Linked DNA regions of Homo sapiens: region 1 is linked to region 2. The links come from fine-mapping of genetic effects on gene expression. A gene starts in region 2. The other region holds a variant in brackets. All regions are shown on one strand. Distances are from middle to middle. Region 1 overlaps PCGF3 (polycomb group ring finger 3). Region 2 holds the start of CPLX1 (complexin 1).

Region 1 (8,000 bases), 67 kb before region 2:
GGGTGCCTGTAATCCCAGCTACTCGGAGGCTGAGGCATGAGAATCGCTTGAACTTGCAGTGAGCTGAGATCGAGGCACTGCACTCCAGCCTGGGTAACAAGAGCGAGACTCTGACCTTCTACGAACCCTACATTCAGCTTCCCTTGGAGCGAGCAGCTGCCCAGTGGACTTCAGGGGCGTTCTGGGTCCTGGCAGGAGTCGCCTCCGTCTTTGGTGGTCCTGGCACCCACAGACCCAGTGGGACTGCAGGGCTGGTGTGGTCTCTGCTCATCTTCGCTCGTGCAGAGTTAGGAAACCCTTACCGGGCCTGTTGACTTGGTGGGTGTGATGTCCCAGCACCAGAAACAGGGGAAATGGCTCCTATACCCTGAGCAGGCTGGGGGTTCTGGTGTGGGGTCCCTGCCGCCCTCCAGAGGCTCCAATGGCTCTTGTGTCTGGAGCTGGAAATGTGGTTTGTTTTCACTCCTCCGAGTTGTGCCTCCCTGGCCCACTGGCTCCTGTCCGCACCCTCGGGCACGCGCTGTGCTCTTGGGACTTCACACCCGAGAGCCGGTCACCTGCTCCTGCTGCACGCCTGCTGGAAGTGGGCTCTGCCTGCAAGGGCCTCGCAGCCGGCGTGGTGAGGGTTGGCTGGTGGGGAGCGGAGAGCCCACCCATCCAGGCCAGAGCCCCTGGAGGTAGAAGGGGCGGAGGGTAGAAAGAGCCTCTCCTGGACTGTAGAGGTGAGGCAGGAGGTAGTGAGCTGGGACCTGGTGCCAGGCTGCCCCACGTGCCGTGGGTGGTGAGTCCGGGGCAGAGTGAACGGGTAAGGCTGGAGGTGAGGTTGGGGACCTTGGGGGCCTGTGGCGAGAACTTGCTGTTCACCCAGAGGAGGGAGATGAGGCAGTTGGGATGTGAGATCGGGGTGTGCTGTGGGATGCAGCCTGGCGTGGCTTTATCCCCAGAGGGTTGCCACTTAGCGCAGCTGCTCTGCAGTGAGCTGCCTGCACGGCCAGGGTGGCCATGCGGAGACCAGGCAGGCGTCTGAGCCAGAGGCCCAGGCAGGTGGCGGTGCGGGTGCAGCACTGGGTTTGGGGCATATTTAAAAGGGAGGGAGCCTGCAGGATTCGCTGGTGATCCAGATGCAGATGGCAGATCTTGGGCTCTTTTTCACTTCCAGGTGGACAAGGAGCTCAGTGTTCCCAGGCAGGCCGATGTGTAGCCATAGACAGCGACAGGTCTTTCTGCAGTGCCCTCTTTACAATCAGAGTTGCATTTCGAGGTGTGTAACGTACCCGCTTGATGGTGACTGCTGTGTGCACACAGGCCCGCGTGGTGTCGCAGAGCACACGGCGTTGTGTGCGTGGCACGTGTTGTTACGCTGTGACTTTTTTACACTTAATTTCCCATCTAATACTGGAGACTTTTAGGTGGTGACCAGCCCATCACTCTTCTAAGACATTGCACTTGTCCCCCTGGGCAGGTGTGTTCCACGGTATCTGTGTTATTTCTGATTCCAGTCTCCTGTGTGTGGGGTGTCCAGCGACTCATCGCACGTCTCTGGGCTCCTCTGCGTGTGAGTTGCTTACTTGTTCTTTGCCCATCTCTGTCCTGGGAAGACTGACTTTTCCTTATGTGAGCTGCAGGGCTACCTCCTCCCTCGCCGCCCCACGCTCACTGCAGGGATCGTCTTTCCTTCTGCGGCTGTCGGCTTTCTTCGACCTATCATCATCCACAGTTTTAAAATTTGACATAATTAAATGTATCGGTATTTTCTTCTGAATCTTAAAAATGTTTCCCCATTCTAAGGTCATAAATACATTCTCTTACATTGTCTTGTAAAATATTTTAAAGGTTTGCTTTTTAGTTGGGTTGTAAGCCCCTGCAGTTGACCTTGTGTGTAGAATGGACAAGGTGGAGTTCAACTTTGCCAAGTTTCCACACTCTCAGGTCCCCCTGGGCTCTCTGCTCTGTTCCGCTGGTCTCTTGTCTCCCATTGTGCCAAAACAACAAGGAACTTACTGAATTGCAATGATTTATTTTACCATTAAGTTGTGGTCTTCTGGGAGAGTACATACCCCTCCTCATTTTTCTTCTTCAGAATTGTCCTTTTTTTTTTTTTTTTTTTTTTTTTTTTGGAGATGGAGTTTCCCTCTTGCCCAGGCTGGAGTGCAAGGCCTGATCTTGGCTCACCGCAACCTCCACCTCCCGGGTTCAAGCGATTCTTCTGTCTCAGCCTTACAGAGTAGCTGGGATTATAGGCACATGCCACCATACCCAGCTAATTTTTTGTATTTTTAGTAGAGACGGGGTTTCTCCATGTTGATCAGGCTGGTCTTGAACTCTTAACCTCAGGTGATTCACCCGCCTCAGCCTCCCAAAATGCTGGGATTACAGACGTGAGCCACCGCCGCACTTGGCTTTTTTTTTTTTGAGATGTAGTCTTATACTCTGTCGCCCAGGCTGGAGTGTGGGGGTGCAATCTCGGCTCACTGCAACCTCTACCTCCCTGGTTGAAGTGAGTCTCCCACCTCCGCCTCCTGAGTAGCTGGGATTACAGGCACGCACCACCATGCCCAGCTAATTTTTGTATTTTTATTACAGACGGGGTTTCACTATGTTGGCCCGTCTGGCCTCGAACTCCTGACCTCAAATGATCCACCCGCCTCAGCCTCCCAAAGTGCTGGGATTACAGGTGTAAGCCACTGCACCCGGCTCTTTTCTAAACTCTAGAGTTGAACATTCCTTTAGTTTCCAGCTTCATAATTTGGTTCTTATTAAAATAATTCTAGAATTTTCATGTTTTTTTTAACCAGCTTTCTAAATTGTGTTACATGCACATAAAATATGCCATTTTAACCATTTTCAGGTGTGTGGTTCAGTGGCCTTGGGTACAGACCCAGTGTTACACAGCCACCACCACCACCATCATCTCCAGAGCCTTTTTATCTTCCCAAACTGAAGCTCTGCCCCCATTAAACACTCACTCCCCACCCCGCTCCCCCAGCAGGGTTAGATCGCAGAGGGGCCTGCCGGGGGCTCTGAGGTGATGGAAACCATCTGAGACTGCCATGGCGATGATCGAGAAAGTCTGTGAATTTACGGAAAATTATTGCATTATATACATAAAAGAGGTGTGTGTAAACTGTGCCATAATAAAGCCTAAAAATTAGAAGCATGCTTGTAACTTAGTGTATTTAAATAGGTAATTCGTTCAGTCCTGAGGTTAGTATTATTGAAAAGGTTTAATTTTGTTCTCATCTCTGCCGCTGTCTGTAGTGACCTATAGAGAACCACTGTGATCACCTCCTGTATGTATGCAAATCTGAGCAAACGTAAACATATTTTCTTCTTGTTTTCCTTCCACAATCCCCCCCACTCCCACCCCCGCCCATGTGTGTCTGCGTTTTCCCGCAGGTGCATGCAGGCCCGCGTTCATCTGTGCAGCCCTTCCTGCTGCCCTGCGGGCCCCATGCACTGCAGACCCCGCTGCCTCAGACCTGTGCCTGCGTGGCTGGCACACCTGTTCCCTGAGTCGGAGACGGCGGCTGCCTGTTGAGGGCAGGGTGCGTCCGCTGCTTATAGAGACGTGAAGCCCACCATGGCCATTCTGTTGGCGTGCGTTTGTCACCAGCTGTGTTCCCGTATAGAAACGTTTCTCGTCTTTGGGGGGCTTCTTCCTCATTAAGCTCTATTTCTTAAAGTCCCATGACATACTAATCTAGCTATGCCAGCTTTCTGTTGGTGAATACTTGTGTGATATTTCTGTTCTTAAAATGTCTTAAATGTGACACTGTTTACAACGTAGAGCTAGGTTTTTTAAAAAAATCAAACTTTTTTAGCTGGCACGTTACCTTACACATTCCACGATTTTCCATGGAGGATGTGAGTTGGTTCCTGCTTTATTTTTTTATTTTGCTCTTTTCGTCAGTTTTTTCCTAATGCTTCCTTCCTCCCTGTTGTCTAGTGAATTAGTAACTTTCTTTAATCTCTTTCTTTCTTCCTCTGGTTTGCAAGGTATAAGCTCTACTTCTGTTATACTAGTGGTTACAAAATGTATAAACTATTTACATTTTTAGAAATCCAAAGTTGGCCCGGCGCGGTGGCTCACGCCTGTAATCCTAGCACTTTGGGAAGCCGAGGTGGGCAGATCACGAGGTCAGGAGATCAAGACCATTCTGGCCAACTTGGTGAAACCCCGTCTCTACTAAAATACAAAAAAATTAGCCGGGCATGATGGTGCG[C/T]GCCTGTAGTCCCAGCTACTCGGGAGGCTGAGGCAGCGGAATCGCTTGAACCCAGGAGGCGGAGGTTGCAGTGAGCCGAGATCGTGCCACGGCATCCAGCCTGGCTACAGAGGGAGACTCTGTCTCAAAAAAAAAAAAAAAAAAAAAAAAAAAGTCCAAAGTCACTGTAAGTCTGTGCCCCTCCCTGCACAAGCACCCCCACCGCGGCTCTCACCGGGCACCCCCTTTCTCCCTGCTTCTCACTTCTTCCGCCAAACTCCAGGTCTTTCTCCCCGCGCGGCCCCTCTCCCGAGTTCTTCTCGCTCCGGACTCCAGGTCTTTCTCCCCTCGAGGCCCCTCTCCGGAGTTCTTCTCCTTCCGGACTCCGGGTCTTTCTCCCCGCGCGGCCCCTCTCCCGAGTTCTTCTCCTTCCGGACTCCGGGTCTTTCTTCCCGTGCGGCCCCTCTCCCGAGCTCTTCTCGCTCCGGACTCTGGGTCTTTCTCCCCACGCGGCCCCTCTCCCGAGTTCTCCCTCCAGACTCCGGGTCTTTCCCCGCACGGCCCCTCCCCCGAGTTCTTCTCCATCCCGACTCCAGTTCTTTCTCCCCGCGCGGCCCCTCTCCCGAGTTCTTCTCCTTCCGGACTCCAGGTCTTTCTCCCCGCGCGGCCCCTCTCCCGAGTTCTTCTCCTTCCGGACTCCGGGTCTTTCTCCCCTCGCGGCCCCTCTCCCGAGCTCTTCTTGCTCCGGACTCCGGGTCTTTCTCCCCGCGCGGCCCCTCTCCCGAGCTCTTCTTGCTCCGGACTCCGGGTCTTTCTCCCCGCGCGGCCCCTCTCCCGAGTTCTTCTCCTTCCGGACTCCGGGTCTTTCTCCCCGCGCGGCCCCTCTCCCGAGTTGTTCTCCTTCCGGACTCCGGGTCTTTCTCCCCGCGCGGCCCCTCTCCCGAGCTCTTCTCGCTCCGGACTCCGGGTCTTTCTCCCCGCGCGGCCCCTCTCCCGAGTTGTTCTCCTTCCGGACTCCGGGTCTTTCTCCCCGCGCGGCCCCTCTCCCGAGTTGTTCTCCTTCCGGACTCCGGGTCTTTCTCCCCGCGCGGCCCCTCTCCCGAGTTCTTCTCCTTCCGGACTCCGGGTCTTTCTCCCCGCGCGGCCCCTCTCCCGAGTTCTTCTCCTTCCGGACTCCGGGTCTTTCTCCCCGCGCGGCCCCTCTCCCGAGTTGTTCTCCTTCCGGACTCCGGGTCTTTCTCCCCGCGCGGCCCCTCTCCCGAGCTCTTCTCGCTCCGGACTCCGGGTCTTTCTCCCCGCGCGGCCCCTCTCCCGAGTTGTTCTCCTTCCGGACTCCGGGTCTTTCTCCCCGCGCGGCCCCTCTCCCGAGTTGTTCTCCTTCCGGACTCCGGGTCTTTCTCCCCGCGCGGCCCCTCTCCCGAGTTCTTCTCCTTCCGGACTCCGGGTCTTTCTCCCCGCGCGGCCCCTCTCCCGAGTTCTTCTCCTTCCGGACTCCGGGTCTTTCTCCCCGCGCGGCCCCTCTCCCGAGTTGTTCTCCTTCCGGACTCCGGGTCTTTCTCCCCGCGCGGCCCCTCTCCCGAGTTCTTCTCCTTCCGGACTCCGGGTCTTTCTCCCCGCGCGGCCCCTCTCCCGAGTTCTTCTCCTTCCGGACTCCGGGTCTTTCTCCCCGCGCGGCCCCTCTCCCGAGTTCTTCTCCTTCCGGACTCTGGGTCTTTCTCCCCGCGCGGCCCCTCTCCCGAGTTCTTCTCCTTCCGGACTCCGGGTCTTTCTCCCCGCGCGGCCCCTCTCCCGAGTTGTTCTCCTTCCGGACTCCGGGTCTTTCTCCCCGCGCGGCCCCTCTCCCGAGTTGTTCTCCTTCCGGACTCCGGGTCTTTCTCCCCGCGCGGCCCCTCTCCCGAGTTCTTCTCCTTCCGGACTCCGGGTCTTTCTCCCCACGGCCTCTCTCCCGAGTTCTCTCTCCAGACTCCCGGATCTTCTTCCCGCTCACATTGTCCCTCTCCTGTGATGCTTGCAGGCGGCCTCGCTCCATCCCACCCCGGAGCAAGGATGTCTCTTGCTTTTTGCACAGAATCCACTTATCTCCCCAGTGGCTCTTGCGGGGCCTTTAATGGGCTGTGCTCAGTGACTGCACCGTGTCGGAGTGGGTATTTCTTGTATTTTGGATTCTTTTGCTTCCTGAATCTGAGGACTGCCCTTCACTGTTGTGGGAGATCCTTAGTCACTGTTTCTTAACACTTCCTTTCCTTTCTGTTCTTCCCTTTGGGGCTCCCGTCTTCTCCCCTTTCTCTTAGCCTTCCTTTTATTGTTTGAATTGGTGTGTTTATCTCTACTCCTGATGGGTAACTTCCTCAAGTGAATTTTTTTTTAGGACATTAATCTGTCCTCGGCTGAGAAGAATCTGTGGTTCAGCCATCCACTGAGATGTTAGTTTCCGTGAGTGTTTTTATTTTTAGAAATTGTATCTGATTACCTTCAATACTTGCCCGTCTGTACCCCTGGTGTCCTCCCTTTTGTATCTTTTGTAATTTTAGACATACATGTTTCAGTTAACCCCCTGTCCATTCTTCCACTGCATTTTTAGGCCCTAACTGTGCCGTTTGTTGCGGCTCCACCTGTAGAAGCGTTTGCCGTGAGCGTCGCCCTTCCTTGTCAGGCACATCTTGGGGGCCAAGCCGGCCGGGCCCTTGGGTGAAGCCTCGTCCTGGGCAGATTCCTTTTCGCACCGGGCAGGGAGCCCGTGGCTGCTGGGACTCCACAGTCCCCTTAACAGTCACTTTTTATCCTGCGGCCAAACTGCTGGTCACCTGGAAGGCAGCTGTGACCTTCCGCCTGTGGCCCTGCTCAAGGCTTCTCCCTACTGTCTTCCTGCAGTCGCTGCTGTCTCCCCGAGTGCATTCGCAGACACGGGGCCGCCCACTCCCCTTTGCGCCATGTTTGTCCGGACAGGCTTAGCTGGAGACCAAGAACCCAGTGCCTGCGATGGATAAGTAACTGTGGGATTAACTCTCAACTATTATGTTAATAACACAGAATTAACAGGGTGAGGTTATAGTTCACAAAATGGCAAGCAGACGATAAACAGGTTTTCAGATAAGGTATGTAAGATTCTTTTTCTGCAGTGTTGAAGTCAAAGCAGATGTCTGATCTCAAAAAGGTCAGCAGTCCTAGATTGAGGAATTAGTGAAATATGTCTAAGGAAGCCTCCAGAACCGTCCGGGGGAACCCTCCTGCTGCGCTCTCACCAGCGTCCTTTCCCGCAGGTGAGCATCTGCCTGGAGTGTAACAGCAGCAAACTGCGCGGGCTGAAGCGGAAGTGGATCCGCTGCTCAGCCCAGGCGACCGTCTTGCATCTGAAGAAGTTCATCGCCAAAAAACTCAACCTTTCATCCTTTAACGAGGTAACAGTTGATCCCTAAGTAGAAACCATAACAAGTCCTCTCTTATTTCTAAAGGTAACTCCAAGATTCTTTGCTTAGTTTTGTTTTGTTTTTAACAATTTTGGAGATTTTAACCAGAAAAAAATCCGTTTTGCCTGCTTCACCGGGGAGCGGGATAGGAGACAGCCCTAAGGGTTGTAGGATGCCCAGAGACAGGGAACGTGGAATGCTACTGTGAGTGGAAGAGAGAACTAGGGCGGGGATGATGAGACTGTTTTAAAATAGGATAAAGGTTTTCCTCAAAACGAGAAATTCTGTGCTTTAATTTCACAAGGGGAGACATGGGCGGATGCAGAGAGGGAGGACCCTTCCAGGCTGTGGTGTGTAAGGAGACGAAGGAGTGCTGGCATGAGGCGGCCTT
Region 2 (15,604 bases):
CCACTGCACTCCAGCCTGGGCGACAGAGCGAGACCCTGTCTCAAAAATTACAAAGACCAAAAGATGGGAGAGGAGTCGGAAGAGTATAAAGTGTGCAGAAGTCCTGGAAGTGTGTTGGCAAGGACTGGAAATACACTGCATCATTTTCAACTCTGGCAAGTAGAGCTTACATCATGTTTTCAAAGAGCACGCACATTCCAAAGCACTGCAGAGGTTTTAAAGAGAAAATGTGGTCCCTACATTAAGTTAAAATAAATGAAACAGCAAGAAAGCGTTTAAAAAGGCAACAACAAAGATGACAGAGGTTAGATCACATATGTTGGTCAAAACAGTGCACATTAAACAGATGCATTAAGGCTCCAATTAGATAAAAAATGAAATCCAACTACATGTATTTCTGAATGGCAACCCACATAAAGTGACAGAAACGTTAAGCAAGGCTCAGCAGGGGCACACTGGGTGAATGTAAAAAAAAAAAAAAAAAAAAATTCAGGCCGGGCGCAGTGGCTCACGCCTGTAATCCCAGCACTTTGGGAGGCCGGGGCAGGTGGATTGCCTGGGTTCAGGAGTTCGAGACCAGCCTGGGCAACACAGTGAAACCCCGTCTCTACTAAAAAAAAAAAAAAAAATTAGCCAGGCGTGGTGGCAGGCACCTGTAATCCCAGCTACTCAGGAGGCTGAGGCAGGAGAATCGCTTGAACCCAGGAGGCGGAGGTTATATGAGCTGAGATTGCGCCACTGCACTCCAGCCTGGGCAATAGAGCGAGACTCTGTCTCAAAAAGAAAAAAAAAATCAGTCCAAGGAGACTCCTAGGCAAAAATTAAAACAAGACCCAGCATAATCAGGATAATTTAATATTAATTAAGAGAAAAATTTTAAGTAAGGATGGAGCATCAGGAATCCCTACCCACTGATGACTGCAGTGACCGCCCCCTTCCCTCACGCCCCCTTGGCCATGAGGATTTCCTCCTCCAGGCCCTGGGGCTCCCTTCCCCTCCACTTCCATCTGGAGATGCTGCTGGCCAGAGACCCTCCCCAGGTGCCCATTGGAGGGTGCATTGTTCCCACCAGCCGTGAGGGGAGGTCCTGTGGGCACGCTGGACATAGTATCTCAGAATATTTTCCCCATCCGGTGTCAAGGAATAAACCAGCATCTGAGGAGCCAAGTCTGACAGGGGACACTGGAGGCGCCACCGCCCTCGGGGGTGGCTCACTGTCCACCTGTCATCCCTGAGCGCATTGGGCAAGGTCAGAAGAATGACCACAGGTGAATCTGGTGTAAAAGAAGGTTGGCTTTTGGCTCCTGTTCTTGCATTGCAGACAAGCCCACACCCCTCCTGAGAGCTGGGTGTCCAGCCTGCTGCCCGAGAGGCCCCAGTGCAGCTGAGCACAGGTCCAAGCCAAGCCTGGTTCGCCCCAGCCCTTGGGGAGGGGAGGCACCGAGGCGCTGGAGAGGTGTTGCAGCACCGGGCCATGCCCGCCTGACCTGCTCACCTGCTGACACCCAGGGGCCCTGGGCCTGGCTGGCCGCCACCACCTTACTTTGTCAAGCTGATTGTGGACCAGCCCCAGCCCCGCCACGGGCCTCGACTGCCACCGTCTCAGAGAGGCTGACATGGTGGCCTCACAGGTCCCCGGGCCCAGCGTCTGATGCACGTCCTGCAATGCTCCCTCTGTTTTGCGCCCACGCTGAAGTGCCACAAACACCTCTTCTCTCCTCAGCAACTCTGGTGGCTTTGCAGATCTTCATTAGCTCACCTGGGATGAGACGCTGACCTGAGCTGGAGCTGGGGTCCTGCAACCATGGCCAAGGCCCCCCGTCCACACCGCCGAGGCCAGGAAAGCCGCGCCATGTGAGTGACGGGAAGAGGCCGAATGAGGGCCAAGGATTACAACTGTCCTGGAAACCGGCGGCTGCGCCATCTGCCGCCGAGCTTGGCACTGTTTGGGTCACTTATTGGCACGTCCACCTCGCCTGTCTCCACGCATCCTCTCCTGAAAGCGAGGACCAGGTGCTGTATTGAAGAGCTGGGCGCTCGGTCCGCAGGCAAGGACAGCAGTGCCCGCGGCCAAGGACGGTGCTGGACTGGATGGTGGAGCTGGAGGGTGGGGCCTCGCCTCATCCCGGGGGACCGCCTAGTGGAAGGGCTGCCAGGCACTCAGTGTCCCCCTCGTCTGATCTCCGTGTGGACCAGGAGACCCAGGTTCTCTGAAGTTTGGCAGCATCAGATTTGCGTGGACTCAATGTTCATTCTGAAGCTTTCATCAGTTCCCTGTTCTGTCTGATGTCCCAGCATTAAACGCTCTGCGCTCCCCGTGCGAGTCCAGCAGCGTCTGATGGCAGCAAAGCGGGACTGAAGTAGTCCTGTCACGCAGGAGCTATTGAAACAAATGCTCTAACCCCAACTGGAACGTCTTGCCAACCAATGAGGCAAAAACATAAATAACTTTGTCAGTTGAAGTGCATAATATCCATTTTATTCCCAAGTTGGGGCTAAAGTATTTATAATTGAGTTGCAGCTTAATCAACCAAGAGCATCCTCTCTGGAGGAAAGGACTGCCCTTCACGGTTTCGGGAGGAAAGGCAGTTTCTCTGAAGGGTCCTTCCAGCCTCCCAGAAATCTGGGATAAGAGGCATCTCTGCCGAACCCAGCAAAGTGAGTGAGTGCTTTCTCGACCACACGGCGTTTGTGAAGTCCGTTCTGAACAAATGTTGGCATTTTACTGTTAAGTGTTTGCAAACTGCCTTTCGAGCACATGCCTTGTTCCAAGGAGTAAGGCTGGGAAGGACACACTGCTGGGGGGTCATTGCCTAGCGGTTCTGCACCTAGAAACCAAGTCTCCCCAAGTTGGGTGTGAGTCAGGCACTGTGGGACGCCTGCCCAACACCCGGCCTCTGTTTGGAGTAGGACGGGCCCACCCTGGCCCCCACCTTCCTCTTCTAGCTGTGGCAAGTAAATGGAAACCCTCCATGAGAGTCTGTAAAGACCACCACTAAACAGATGAAGGGGTTGCCCCTTAGCTCCTCTCTTTTTCCTTCCCTGACTATGGATGCAATGCTGGAGCAGCAGCAGCCACTTTGAGATTGTGAGGAGCAGCTGAGCATGAAAGATCCACTGAGGACGAAGGTGGCACCTGATGGCACCAGGTCCCCAGTAGCATCGCTGAGCAGCTGGGCCACCTCCTGACACATCGTCACCCCAATTCAAGCTCCTCTTCCTCTGATTGTTACTTGCAGCCAAAAGAATCTTCCCCATGTGGAATTCAAGAGCTTCACCTCCGGATCTGCTGCTGTCCCTGCAGCTCAGCCCAGCCTGCAGCTCCACCGTCCTCCCAGGTCCAGCTCAGCCCAGCCTGCAGCTCCACCGTCCTCCCGGACCCAGCTCAGCCCAGCCTGCAGCTCCACCGTCCTCCCGGACCCAGCTCAGCCCAGCCTGCAGCTCCACCGTCCTCCCGGACCCAGCTCAGCCCAGCCTGCAGCTCCATCGTCCTCCCAGGTCCAGAGAGCCTGATCAGTGGCCCAATGGGGCAGGAACTGGCAGAATCCCCCATTGCCTCAACCACCAGGAGCCTGTGGGGTCCCTAATAAACAGAGAAGGCTGAGCTTCAAACTGGGCAAGAAGAGAGAGGCAGGAGAGCCAGAGGGACCTCTGTCTGGGACAGGGTGGACACCCAACCTTGCCCATGGTGTAAGTCTCAGGGGTGGACACTGGGAATCAGGGCAGGATTGCCCAGATCCCAGTTGCCTCCATGGCCCTGCCTGAGGTCCCAGATGGTGAGTGCTGAGCCCCACTTTGGTGCCGGGAAGGAGGAAGGAGGTGCCCCCTCCATCCCCGTGGAGGGCTGGGGGAGATGCTGGTGTTGGCTGCATTGTGGCTCAGGGCATCCCTGGCCTGGACTCCTGGCTCTGGTGGTCTCTGCTCACAGAGGGAGATTCTTTCCCAACTGCACCCCTCACCAGCCTCACGTGAACCCCCAAGGTGGACACCCCTCACCAGCCTCACGTGAACCCCCAAGGTGGACACCCCTCACCAGCCTCGCGTGAACCCCCAAGGTGGACACCGGTGGCCCCCACAAGCCCCTTGGGTTGTTCCTGCCGAGAACTCACAGCCCAGCCCCACGGGGGCGCGGAGGGGCTCTCCCACACGGTGGAACCCTGCACTTCCTGCCTGGGCCGTCCACGAGACACTTCTCGTCCACCCCGGCTTGGATGACCACAATCCTCCCCCTCACGCCAAACCCAGGACCGCACCCCTACGGTGTGTTCTCCCCAGATGTTCACCTGCTTCCCTCCCCATGTAGGACTGGACACAGAACCCAACAGCGTACCACTCTCCGGGGACAAGGACAGCTTCTCCACTGAACCCAGGCCAGGCTGTCGCCCCCCAGGTTGGGCCTGGCTGGGTGAGGGGCATTCACTGCCGGACACTGTCCATCGTGACTGAACCACCGGAGTCACTGGACCTGCCCGCTAGACCTCCCCACACGTGGCAGAGCCGAGCATGGGTGAGTCCTGCCTTGGGCTCTGTCGCTGGGGCAGTCAGAGGCTCTCCTGAGTGTCCGGCTGCCTCCCACTCTGCACCCCAGCCTCTCCGCACATGCATCCTCCAAGCCGTGTCCCACCTGAAGCCCCGGCCCGCCTGCCCCACACATTCCCGAGGACCTGAGCGTGTTTAAACAGGGCGTGTGTCACATCAAGGCGGAGGATGGGAGAGCGGGTGGCTGCTCGCTTCTGCCACATTTAGCCCCATGAGGGTCTGCAGTGACCACGGCACCCACACGTGCCACGTTCCTCCACGCTGTCCACAGAGCTCCCAGGCCGTGTTTGCAACTTTCTGGCCTGAGGAAACCAGTTTCTTTAAATTACTCCCTTGAGGACCCTGGATCCGGACCCACGTGTTGTGGGGGGAGGCCCGGCCCCAGTTCAAGGCCACTTTTGCTGCAGAGGAGCCTCCCGCTCCCCCACGAGCGATCACCCCGGCAGCCACCATGCTCCCTTCCCTTGGTGGCCCCAACAGGGGCCCCTCCTTGAGACCCAGCGTTGGGTCAGATGAGCAGGCCCTGGGCCACTCACTCCTCAGCAAGACTCACACCTGCGGCCCAGCCTGCCGCGGACAGCCCCCGAATGGTCTTGATTTAACCAGGCCTGTCCCCCTGCCCAGAGCCCTGGGCAGGTCCTCACCTCTTCCTCCTCTCTGCTGCACCCTCTGACGGGCGTGCACGTGTGCATGTGCCATGCTGCCTGCGCTCCTGGCCCTGACTCCTCTTAGCAGTTCATTTCTAATGCGTCTCTCTCCCCACTGTCTCTCCCTCTGTCTCTGTCTCTCCCTCTGTCTCTGTCTCTCCCTCTCACCACTGTCTCTCCCTCTGTTTCTGATTCTCCGTCTCTCCCCATCTCTGTCTCTCCCTCTGTCTCTGTCTCCATCTCTATCTCTCTAACTCTCTCTGTCTCTCTCTCTCCTTCTGCCTCCACCTCTCCCTCTGCCTCTCTCTGCCCTCTTCCTTTGTCTGTCTGTCTCTCTGTATCCCTCTGTCTCTCCCTCTGCTCCCATCTCTCCCTGTCTCTGTTTCTCCCTGTCTCTGTCTCCCTCTGTCTCTGTGTCTCCCTCTATCTCTGTCTCCGTCTCTCCCTCTTTCTCTCTCTCCCCTCTGCCTCTGTCTCTGACGTGCCGTCTCTGTTTTCACCTGTCTGTCCCTGTGCGTGCTGAATAACACATTCTTGTCTTTTTCTCTGTCTGTTTCTGGGCTGTCATTTTCTTTCTCCAGCTCCCCCTCCCCGACCCTGTTTCTGGGTTCGCCTTTCTTTGAACGGCTTCCTGGGTGCCTCCTGCTCCCTCTCCTGCCAGCTTCTTTGTGTCCGGGGCTTGGTCTGTTTCTCAATAGTTCTCTTGGGGTCTCTGCCAAGCTCTGTCGTGCTGTCTGGAGGTTCCCCCATTTCCCATCTCTGTCTTGCTCTGTCTCACTCACACGCATCCTGAGACAGCAACAATGAGGCTCGCCGGGTGAGGGACAGAGGCGCAGAGGCAGAAAACAAGGTCTCGACTGGAAGCCCCCCACCAGCTCCCGCCCTCAGCAGCTCTGGCTCCGAGCCTCAACGTGCTCTGCAAAGCCAATGTGGGGTGCTCTGGGAAGCACTCAGCGTGGAGCCCCCCCAGGGTCTGCTGGCTGCCCCCGCTCAGCTCCACCACGCTGAGCGACGCCTGCCCGGTTGCTGCTGCTGGAGAAACTTTGGGCTGCCATGAAACAAAAAGGGAATTCAGGCTGGTAATTACCCAGCTAATTTCAGTCATGTAGACAGCCAAATAAGATATTTCAGTTTCTTACAAGCCCACCTCAGGGCCTGAATTAGCCAACTAATTAATTATCCGTAACAGCCTGGGACTCCCTGGGTGGAACGTGCGTCCCTCCCAGCGCAGATGCAGGCTTGTCCCTGAATCACAGCCCGGTGACGCAGCCATTATAATTAGACTCAACCTGACTCTTACCCTTGACCACGAAATCTCAGGGATGTGGCCCCAGGACAGGCTCAATATCTTTTCATTTAATTTGTGTTGAGTGGAAGCACAGCCACCCTCCGGGAGACAGCCAGGCAGGCAGCTCCTGCCCTGGGGGAAGCGGCGCCTGCCCTCTGTACACCCTTGTCCCTGGCCCCTCGAACCCGGCCAGCTCCCCCACTGCAGAAATGCTCCCAGGAGGCCTGACTCACTCCAAGGTGTGAATGGCATCAGGTGAGGGTGCTCCCCCGTGGAGGCCACCCAAGCAAGACGTCTCTAGTGGTAGAATCGGGCACCGGCCACAGGTTCCCCTCACAGGAGTTCTGGGCACTGGTGCTGGGGGAACACAGGATGGACGGCTCTGGGCAAAACTGAGACTCGCCACGACAGCCCCGAGGCCTGAGTTGACCCATCAGCTCTGCCGGGACACGTCTGTACCAGCATGGCCCAGGCCCTGCCCACCTCCTGGTCTAGGAACCCAGCCACTGCTCTTGACATGGTCTCTGGCCACAATGACAGCCTTGGGTCAAGTGGGGACGAGGTTCCTTTCAAATAGCAGACAGCAGGTTGGAAGGGGGCCTGGCCCCACCCCAGTACACACAAAAAAGGCTGCACGTCCCGCCTGGGAGGCAGTCGAGACACACAAGCTGTTTCGGGCCTTTTCCTTCGCTCCCGTAACCAGCAAGCCCTGGTCCCTGAGGATGGCGCTGCCTCACCCAAGTGAAACCCACAGGGTCCTCGCCAGATGCACAGGCCAGCTCTGTCCCCACGCCTGTCCCTGAGGCTGCCACCTGCATCCTGCTCTCCCACCGCTTGGCTCTCCTCATCTGGAAGGAAGCCCCCTTGGGGGCTGCCCAGCCTGGCCAGTTAGAATTGGCCCTGTAAAGCCTACGCCAGAGTGTGCACCCTCCCCCAGGACGTGCATCAGCATGGTCCATGGGCTCTGCCCCGACCACAGCAGTGGGGCAGAGTGAGCTTACAGGGCAGCCCCTGTCCCGCCAGGAACACCAGTTCTGGCTCGGGGCCTCGAAAAGGGCCGGGCTGGGGGCGCTGCTGGGCACGGTCCTTGCTCCTCTGCCCCAGGCTCCTGTGCAGGGCTGCGTGGGTGGCCGTGTGGCTGCAGGGGCGCTGCTGCGGTGGGCCAGATGAGGAGCAGCTGCTGTGGTGGTCTCTCCATGTCCCCTCAGCCCCTCCCCACCCCACCTCCCGCTTCCTACCTCCTAGAGCCTGCTTCATCACAAACTCCATGGCGATTGCTCTGCTTCCACAGTGGCTCCTCCAGGGGTCAGAACTCACACGCAAGTATGGCCGGGAGCGAGTGTTCTTCCTGGGGGAGAGTGAAGTGGTCACAGGTCACCCTAAGCAGGCCCCTGCCTGGCCTTCCCCAGAGACCATCATTCCTTACCCGCAATACCTTGTGGGCTGGACCCTCCCCCACCTGGAGCGGCTGCCTGGGAAGTCCTTCGTGAGGGGCTTCTGTCCCCACACCCAAACCAGGACCCCAGAGGACCTGAAAATGGTCTCCCCAGCTCCTGGGGTGTCTGAAGCCTCTGCAGGGAGGGCTGCTGATGGCTTAGGGGGCATCGCTCAGAGGCGCCTGGCGCCAGGCTGCGGAAGCAGGGGCGGGGCCCAGGGGGCGTTTGAAGGTGACTGCTCCGCTCTGCAGCTCAGTGTCTGGAGCGGCGCCTCCGCGGTGGTCCCGAGCCCAGGGCCGTGGAGAAGGGTTGGGGGTGGGTCTTTGAGCGGGTACCCTTCAGGGCGGGCTCCTGTGGCTTCTGACCAGGGAGGCTTGGGTGACCCTATCCCTGACGGCACTGCAGTCAGTGTGCCCCCCACATGGCCCGCGTAGAAGAGATCGGGGTTGGGGAGAAACTTCAGGGGGCTCAGCCTTCAGGAAACACGTGGGGACGGGGACAGAGCACCCCCGCCCCGGGGGCGTGCATGGGGTGGGGTGGGGCGCTCTGGTCCCCTCTTGGGAAGCCGCTTTCTGAAATCACAGCAGCCGCAGTGAGCCCCCCGGTTTTGCGGGGTCTCTCCTATCGGGGAACCCCAGGTCCCTGGAGAGACACTGTTTGACGGTTCACCCCTCGCCCTCCGCAGAGGAAGGAGACTCGCGCGGGGACTGGGAGGGCGGCGGGCGGGGAGCGCCCCTCGGAGGCTTTGCCGCAGCGCCGATTCTCCTCCAAACTTCTCCCCTGGCTCCCGCGGCGCGGGGAAGGAGGGCACGGCCGGGCCCCGCAGACCCGCAGGGCTCCGGCCCCGCCGCACCCGCACCCCTCGGCTTTGCGGGCGGGCGAGCGGCCCTCAGGCGGGAGCGCGCCAGGAGAGGAAAGAAAGAGGGCGAGGGAGGAGAGGGGGAGCCTCGAGACAGGAAGAAGCGAGGAGGAGGCCGGGCGCGGGCCGGGACCGCGGGGGCCGCTTCAGCACCGCGGCAGTGGACAGCGCCCGCCCCGGACCCCGCGCGCGCGGAGCCCGGGAGAGAAACGGGGGCTGCGGGGAGAAGCCGGGGTCGGGGGGAGAAACGGGGGCCGGAGGGAGAGGCCGGAGCCGGGGGGAGAAGCCGGAGCCGGGGAGGAGAGACCCGGGGAGCGGAGGCCGGGGGGAGGAGCTGGGCGAAGCCGGGGCCGCGGGGAGAAGGGGGGCCGGGAAGGAGAAACCGGGGCCGGCGGGAGAAGCGGGGAGAAGCGGGGGCCGGGGAGGAGACGCCGGGGCCGGGAGGGGAGACCCGGGGAGCGGAGGCCGGGCGCGCGCTGCGCTCGGGGCGCGGTTACCTTCCCGGGGCGCGGGCGGTCAGCGGCGGGGCGCGCTCGGGCCGGCTGGGTCCATGTGGCGCCCGGTGAGCTGCGGCGGCGGCTGAAGGGCACCGCGAGGAGGGCGCGTCACTCGCAGGCGCTCCCCGCCCCCCGCCCGCGTCCGAGCGTGACGAGCACGGGGAGGGGAGCGCCGAGGGGCGGGGCCGCGGGCGCCGGGCGGGGGCGGGGGTGGACCCGGGGGCGGGGGCGGAGGCGGACCCGGGGGCGGGGGGCGGGGGGTGGACCCGGGGCGGGGGCGGGGGGTGGACCCGGGGGCGGGGGCGGGGGGCGGGGGCGGGGGGCGGACCCGGGGCGGGGGCGGGGGGTGGACCCGGGGCGGGGGCGGGGGTGGACCCGGGGGCGGGGGCGGGGGGCGGGGGCGGGGGCGGGGGGTGGACCCGGGGCGGGGGCGGGGGTGGACCCGGGGGCGGGGGCGGGGGTGGACCCGAGTGACGCGCCCCCGCCTCCCTCCAACCCGGCCCGGGCTCGACCTTCCCCCGGCGGGCGCCTGCGACCCCCGCCCGCCCCTGATCTGGGCGCCCCCGGCTCTGCCCCCCCGCCCCCAGCCCGACGGTGCGGGCCTGCTCCCTACAGGGTCCGCGCGGGGCCGGTGGGTGCAAAACCCTCGGGCGGAGAAGTCGCTGCCTCCCGAGCGGAGGGGCCAGGGGTTGGGAGTCGCTGCCGCCCCCATTCTCCGGTGACCGTGTCCCTGAGCGCCGCCCGCCGCCCCGACCCCTCTGCCCCGACCTCCCCGTATCGCAGGGCGGGAGAAGGGGGCCCCCAGACCCCTGAAAACCCACGCAAGCCCCTCGCAGCCAGAGACCCGCAGGCCGGCCCGGGCTCACTTTCGGTGTAACGGAGTCGCTGTTTCCTTTACCGGGACGAAGGCCAGAGACCCCACCGCTCCCTCCCCTGGCCCCCGGGATTTCCTCTGCAGCGGACGCGGCACTGCGGGAGAGCGGGGTCGCCGCAAGGTCGGCCCTGCGGTTCGCGCTGTGCAGTGTCGGGAGCCAGGCGGCGGGAGGGATGGGGCGCACCGCGACCCTAGAGCTGCCCTGTGCTCCTGGCGGGGTGGGGGTGGGGAGGGGGGAGGGGGGCCGCTGCCGGTGGCCGCCGCACTAACTTGTCACTGTCCCCTCCCTGCTGAGTCCTGGGGACTCCCCTGGCGCAGGGAAGATGCGGCCCCTCCCCCGCCCTCAGCCCCATCCCCTCCGGTGCCCCGTGTTTAGCCTGAGCTCAGGAGGACTCAGAGGCCTGGACTCCCAGCCTTGGCCCCAGCGCCTCTGCCCCCGTCCCCACTCTTCTGCTGACTTGGCAGGGGACCCTTCGCAGAGGAAGGGAGCGCTGGGGGAGAGGGAAGGGTGAAGGCACCAGGGCCAAGCCCATGGGGGCTCCCTGAGACAGCCATGAGGGTCCCGTGGGCCTGGGGGTTCACAGGCAACCTCCCAGAGGGGGACCCATGCCCTAGGATTGGGGTCTCTTCAGCCTCCCTGGCTGGAAGCCATGGGCACCCCCAGCACCGTCCCTTCCTCTCTCCCGGGATCTGAGCCAAGTGGGCTCAGAACGTTGGGCCCAGGGACAGGAGGCAGGACACATGCCTGGGGGCCCGGCCTGAGCCCCAGCCTGCTCTGCTCCATCTGCTCCTCTAGTCTCCTCAGGACCTGGGAGGGGACAGCAAGGGTGAGATGTTCGGGTCCAAGAAAGAGGTCACTTCTCGGCCCTGGTGCTTTCTCTCTCCATCCCTAACTGGGTGGATAACCCAACAGCTAACCCGGACAGTAACCCCAGAGAGGACCCCAGGGGTGACCCCCTGAGCCCAGAGCCAGGCTCATGACTGACCCTGCCACCTCCACAAGCTGCATGCAAGGGATATGCTGGTGCCTTTGGGACAGTCTGCACAGGAGTGCAGGGAGGTGCCCGTTCTTCCGAGCAGAAGCACTGGACTCCTAGGCTGACCCCTCCCCGTTCTACAACCCAGGCCAGCCTGAGCTCCAAGCACACCTGGAGCTGGGGCCTGGGGCACAGAGGACAGAGACCCTCTGCCAGCCCTCACGTTCTGCCCTGTCTTCCTCTGCCTCTCTCTCTGTCTCTTTCTCCGTCGCTGTATCTCTCTGTCACTGTGTCTTTCTGCCCGTCTCTCTGTCTCTATCTTTCTGTCTCTGTCTTTCTCTGTCACTGTATCTGTCTCTGTGTCTTTTTGTCTCTCTGTCTCTTTCTATCTCTGTCTCTGTCTTTCTGTCTTTTCTTTCTCTGTCGCTGTATCTCTCTGTCTCTGTGTCTGTCTCTGTCTCTCTGTGTCCGTCTCTCTCTGTCTCTGCCTGTCCCTGTTGTTACTTGTTACATCCAGCCACACATGCAGTGACTGCTTCTCAGCTCTCACACTTGTCTAGGCCCTAACCTGGGGGTGGGGGGGCCCAGCCACAACTTGGGGGAAATAGACAAGGTTGGTGACAGCCCCAGGTCAGAGTGACAAGTGGCCTAGGGAAGGGAAAGTGGGCATCTGCTGGAGGAGTTGAGGGTGGTGCCCACTCAGGGTGTGTGAGCTGGGCCAGGGGAAGGGAAAGTGGGCATCTGCTGGAGGGCTTCAGGGTGGTGCCCACTCAGGGTGTGTGAGCCAGGCCAGGGCTGCCCAGCTGGGATGGGAGTCACAGGCTGCTGGCCAGGAGCCACCCAGGCTCCGTTCCAGTGGCAGAAGGTGGTGACGCGGCAAAAGGCCTCTGCCAACCCCCACGGGCCACTTGGCCACACCAGGGCAGGTGCGGTTGGCCCTTCGAGTGCCCAGAGGAGGCCCTGAGCCCTGGAGAAGAAGCCCCGCAGACCTCCAGCCGGCTGGAAAGGGGCAGGAGCTGAGTGAGAAAGGGGCCAGCAGGTTGAAGGCCAGGTTGAAGATCCAGGCAGGGAAAACATTTTGCAGGCCGGGGAAGAGTTGGAGGCCACCCCGTCCAGGCGGATGTTGGGAGAAGGAGGAGGTGGGGTGTGGAGCAAGTCCGGGAGGAGCAGGATGGAGCTCCAACGAGGGCTCCCCCAGAGGTCAGCTTGGAGAAGTGTGAGTGCTTGGCTGGGCCGAGCCCTGGCTGTGGGGCCTGTGCCAGCCGGTTGGACATGGATGGTACCCCCGGCCCAGCCAGCCCTCTGCTCCTCAGATGCTCCATCCCCAGCCCCAGTGAGGCCAGGGACCCCAGGAGCACAAAGCAGGACTGTGTGAGGACCATGTGGCACTGGGTTTGAGACCCTGCGGGGTCACTCCAGACAGCAGGGAAAGGAGGCAGCTGCCCTGCTGCAACCTCCAGCTCTAGCCTCTCTGGAAGCCCCTGCCAAGGCCTCCACTGCCACCCTGCTCCCATCTTCTGGGTCCCATCTGCCCATAGCCCTCCTGGGTGCCAGGCATCCTCCTTGCCTTGGGCCAGGAAAGGGTCTGGGAAGCACTGTCAGGGTTTCCTGGGGTTGGCCTTCAGTCCTGGCGTGGGGTGTGGCCAGGGGGCCATGTCCCCCATGGGCCCAGCAGGAGGGCAGCGCTCTGCCACACCGCATGTGTGGATCCGGCCCACAGCACCCACCCAGAACCTTCAAACACAAACTTAATAGTTACATGTGCTGAGTGATTCAGTCTGAGTGCCGACACCATCCACGCTGTCATTTTCCTGCTGGATTTTGATATTCCAAAAGTAACAACACGTGAAAAGCGTGAGCAAAGCAAGATGTAGACCCTTGCCGTTTGCCAGAGCTGGGGCAGGACCTGGGCTGAGTGGAGGGTGTCCTCGCCTGGGAAGCGCCCTGAACCCGTTCCCCTCCTCCACTGGGTGAGAGAGGTCCAGCATCTAGCCGGGGGAAGCCAGCGCCTGGGAGGTCAGCCTAGTGGGCCCCTGGGAGCAGAGCAGAGGTACTGCCGCAGCTGAGCGAATGCTTGTGCCCCAGGCCCTGCCCTGGGGTCCTGGGATCCACGGCTGCCCGGTCACACGGTGCCCAGATCTCATGGTGCCCCAGGGCACACATGGGGCCCGCTCTGAGCTGATCTCTTGCGGCCCAGCATGGTCCCAACCATGCAGTCAGCAGCACCAGGTAGCCGGGTCAGCGGCACTCACCCCTGGCTGGAGGGAGCCTCTGAGCTGGGCAAGGCCAGGTCCCGGGCAGCCCACCCGCCAGGCCAGGGCCCTCCAGCTTCAGGGGGAGCCACCGGCTCCAGCCCTGCGCTGAGTGTGGGGTGTGGATCTGGCCTCCTTCAGCCGGGGACCCTGATCCACCAGGGACCCAGGGCAACAAAAGAGCCGCCCGTGGGGAGTGGGCTTGGGGTGGACAAACCCAGAGGCTGTGGAGGAAAGGGGCCTTGCTGTGGGCTGCAGCTGCTCGAGGGACTCCGCCCTCCCAGCCTCAACACCTCAGGGCAGGAAGGAGGGGCTTCAGGGGCCTTCCCGGAGGACAGGGTGAGAGACAGCTCGTCTGGGAGAGGCAGGGCTGGCCCAGGGGTGTGGCTGGCTGGGTGGTGAGCACAGTGGGTGGTGCTGGAATTTGGAGATGGGCAAGAGATCCTGGGAGCTGCCAGTCGTGGGGAGGAGAAGTTTCCCGGGAGGATCCTGGGCCAAACACCTGCACTCCTGGGACCCAGAGCCTCAGATGCTCCTTAGGGTCTTGAGTGCCGTGTGATGGAGCCGGAAGGGGTAGGCGGGGGGCAGAGGGCAGGGAGAGCTGGGTTGAAGCCAGGCTCAGAACGCCGAATGCCCCTTCCCTCCCTCCCTCTCCTCCAGTGACACCTGGAGTGAGGCCACATCACATGCATGTGGGTATTTTTGGGAGCATTTCATGCCCAGGAAGTGGGAGGAGGAGCTATTTTGGCTCCCCAGGAGCACGGGACCCCTCCGGCAGCCCTGGTGCTCACTTAGGGAAAGGGCGTGCACGGCTCAGCCGGGCTGTGGCCTTCTCTGTGTCCCCTAGGGCTTGACCTCCTGACTGTCGGACTTTGTGTCCATGGGTGTGGTGGGGGCACAGTGGCGGAAGTGAGTCCCTGGGGCTGTCCCTGGAGGGCAGAGCAGGGGCATCTTAGGGTGGGGTGGGCCTGGGAAGGTGCGGGAGGGCAGCACCGTCTCACAGGGCAGTGGGCGCCAAGGCAGTGCTGCAGGACAGGGCAGTCACCCCAGCAGTGTAGACAGCATAGCGGCGCCCAGCAGAGGGAGGGTGTCCAGTTCCAGGGAAGGTGCCTGGGCAGCTGGAGGCCAGCAGACAGGGGTGTTCACAGCACAGAAGTTGTGCGTTGCAAACCAAGGCTTCCTGGGTCTCAGCTCCCCCTGCTCAGGGGCTCCTGCTGGGCCAGGGACACACGTGTGGAGTGGGCAGCCTGGCCCTGTGTGGCCTCTCTCTGAGCTGCCTCCAGGAAGCTTCAGGAAGCTTCAGAGGCTCCCACGAGGTGATACGGGAGAAGCTGCTGCCTAGGGTATGTGTATCCCACAGCCCCTGGCCCCGTCCACCCACCCTGCTCCTTTGCTTAGGCACTGGCTCAGCCCTCAGTAGCTCAGCCACCCACTAGCACACAAGTGTTTCCAGACACTGCTGGGAGCTGGGCACTTGTCCTGAGGAGGGCAGGTGGGGCTGTGTCCTCACAGGGTCGTGTGCTGGGAGGAGACAGTGGACAGGAGCTCAGGAGATGGCAACAAGAACCCTGCAGGAGCCTGAGACAGAGTAGGGAGAACACGGCCATTGGGGGGTCAAGCCAGCCCTGAATAACTTGATGTCACCCAGGCCCATCACAGGTGAGGGGATCACGGCCGGTGGGGGGTCAAGCCAGCCCTGAATGACCGGATGTCACCCAGGCCCATCACAGGTGAGGTGAGCACAACTGTTGAGGGGTCAAGCCAGCCCTGAATGACTGGATGCCACCCAGGCCCGTCACAGGTGAGGGGAGCACGGCCAGTGGGGGATCAAGCCAGCCCTGAATGACTGGATGTCACCCAGGCCCGTCACAGGTGAGGGGAGCACGGCCGGTGGGGGATCAAGCCAGCCCTGAATGACTGGATGTCACCCAGGCCCGTCACAGGTGAGGGGAGCACGGCCGGTGGGGGATCAAGCCAGCCCTGAATGACTGGATGTCACCCAGGCCCGTCACAGGTGAGGGGAGCACGGCCGGTGGGTGATCAAGCCAGCCCTAAATGATTGGAGGTCACCCAGGCCTGTCACAGGAAACCCAAGGAGTGCCCACAGTGTGGGCTGAGGCCTGGGGCGGGGACAGAAAGGAGCCCTGAGTCCAGCCTGGGGGAGGCTGCTCCAGGCTGTGCACCCCACGGTCCCAGCACACAGTGGCAAAGGGGTACCTGTGACCCCACAGGTGC

What was found. PIP is the estimated chance that this variant, and not a neighbour inherited with it, causes the effect.
Region 1: its variant is fine-mapped to the expression of CPLX1 in whole blood (TOPMed, PIP above 0.99).

Annotation. Positions count from the first base shown.
Region 1 is chr4:753,817-761,816 of GRCh38, forward strand. PCGF3 (polycomb group ring finger 3) reads left to right here. Exons shown (of 11, transcript NM_006315.7): 9 at 7,463-7,600. It overlaps LOC124900163 (chloride intracellular channel protein 6-like), which reads right to left. Exons shown (of 2, transcript XM_047416474.1): 2 at 1-8,000. The coding sequence starts at 6,231. The coding sequence ends at 4,348. PCGF3-AS1 (PCGF3 antisense RNA 1) reads right to left here. Exons shown (of 3, transcript NR_171661.1): 3 at 6,627-8,000. Among named protein-coding and RNA genes, the nearest start is that of PCGF3-AS1, 24 kb to the right of the region's middle. The variant C/T (reference allele first, on the strand shown) is at 4,224.
Region 2 is chr4:816,780-832,383 of GRCh38, forward strand. CPLX1 (complexin 1) reads right to left here and starts at 9,350. Exons shown (of 4, transcript NM_006651.4): 1 at 9,267-9,350; 2 at 7,713-7,822. The coding sequence starts at 7,743. RefSeq lists a silencer at 9,320-9,369 and enhancers at 13,178-13,695, 13,696-14,211.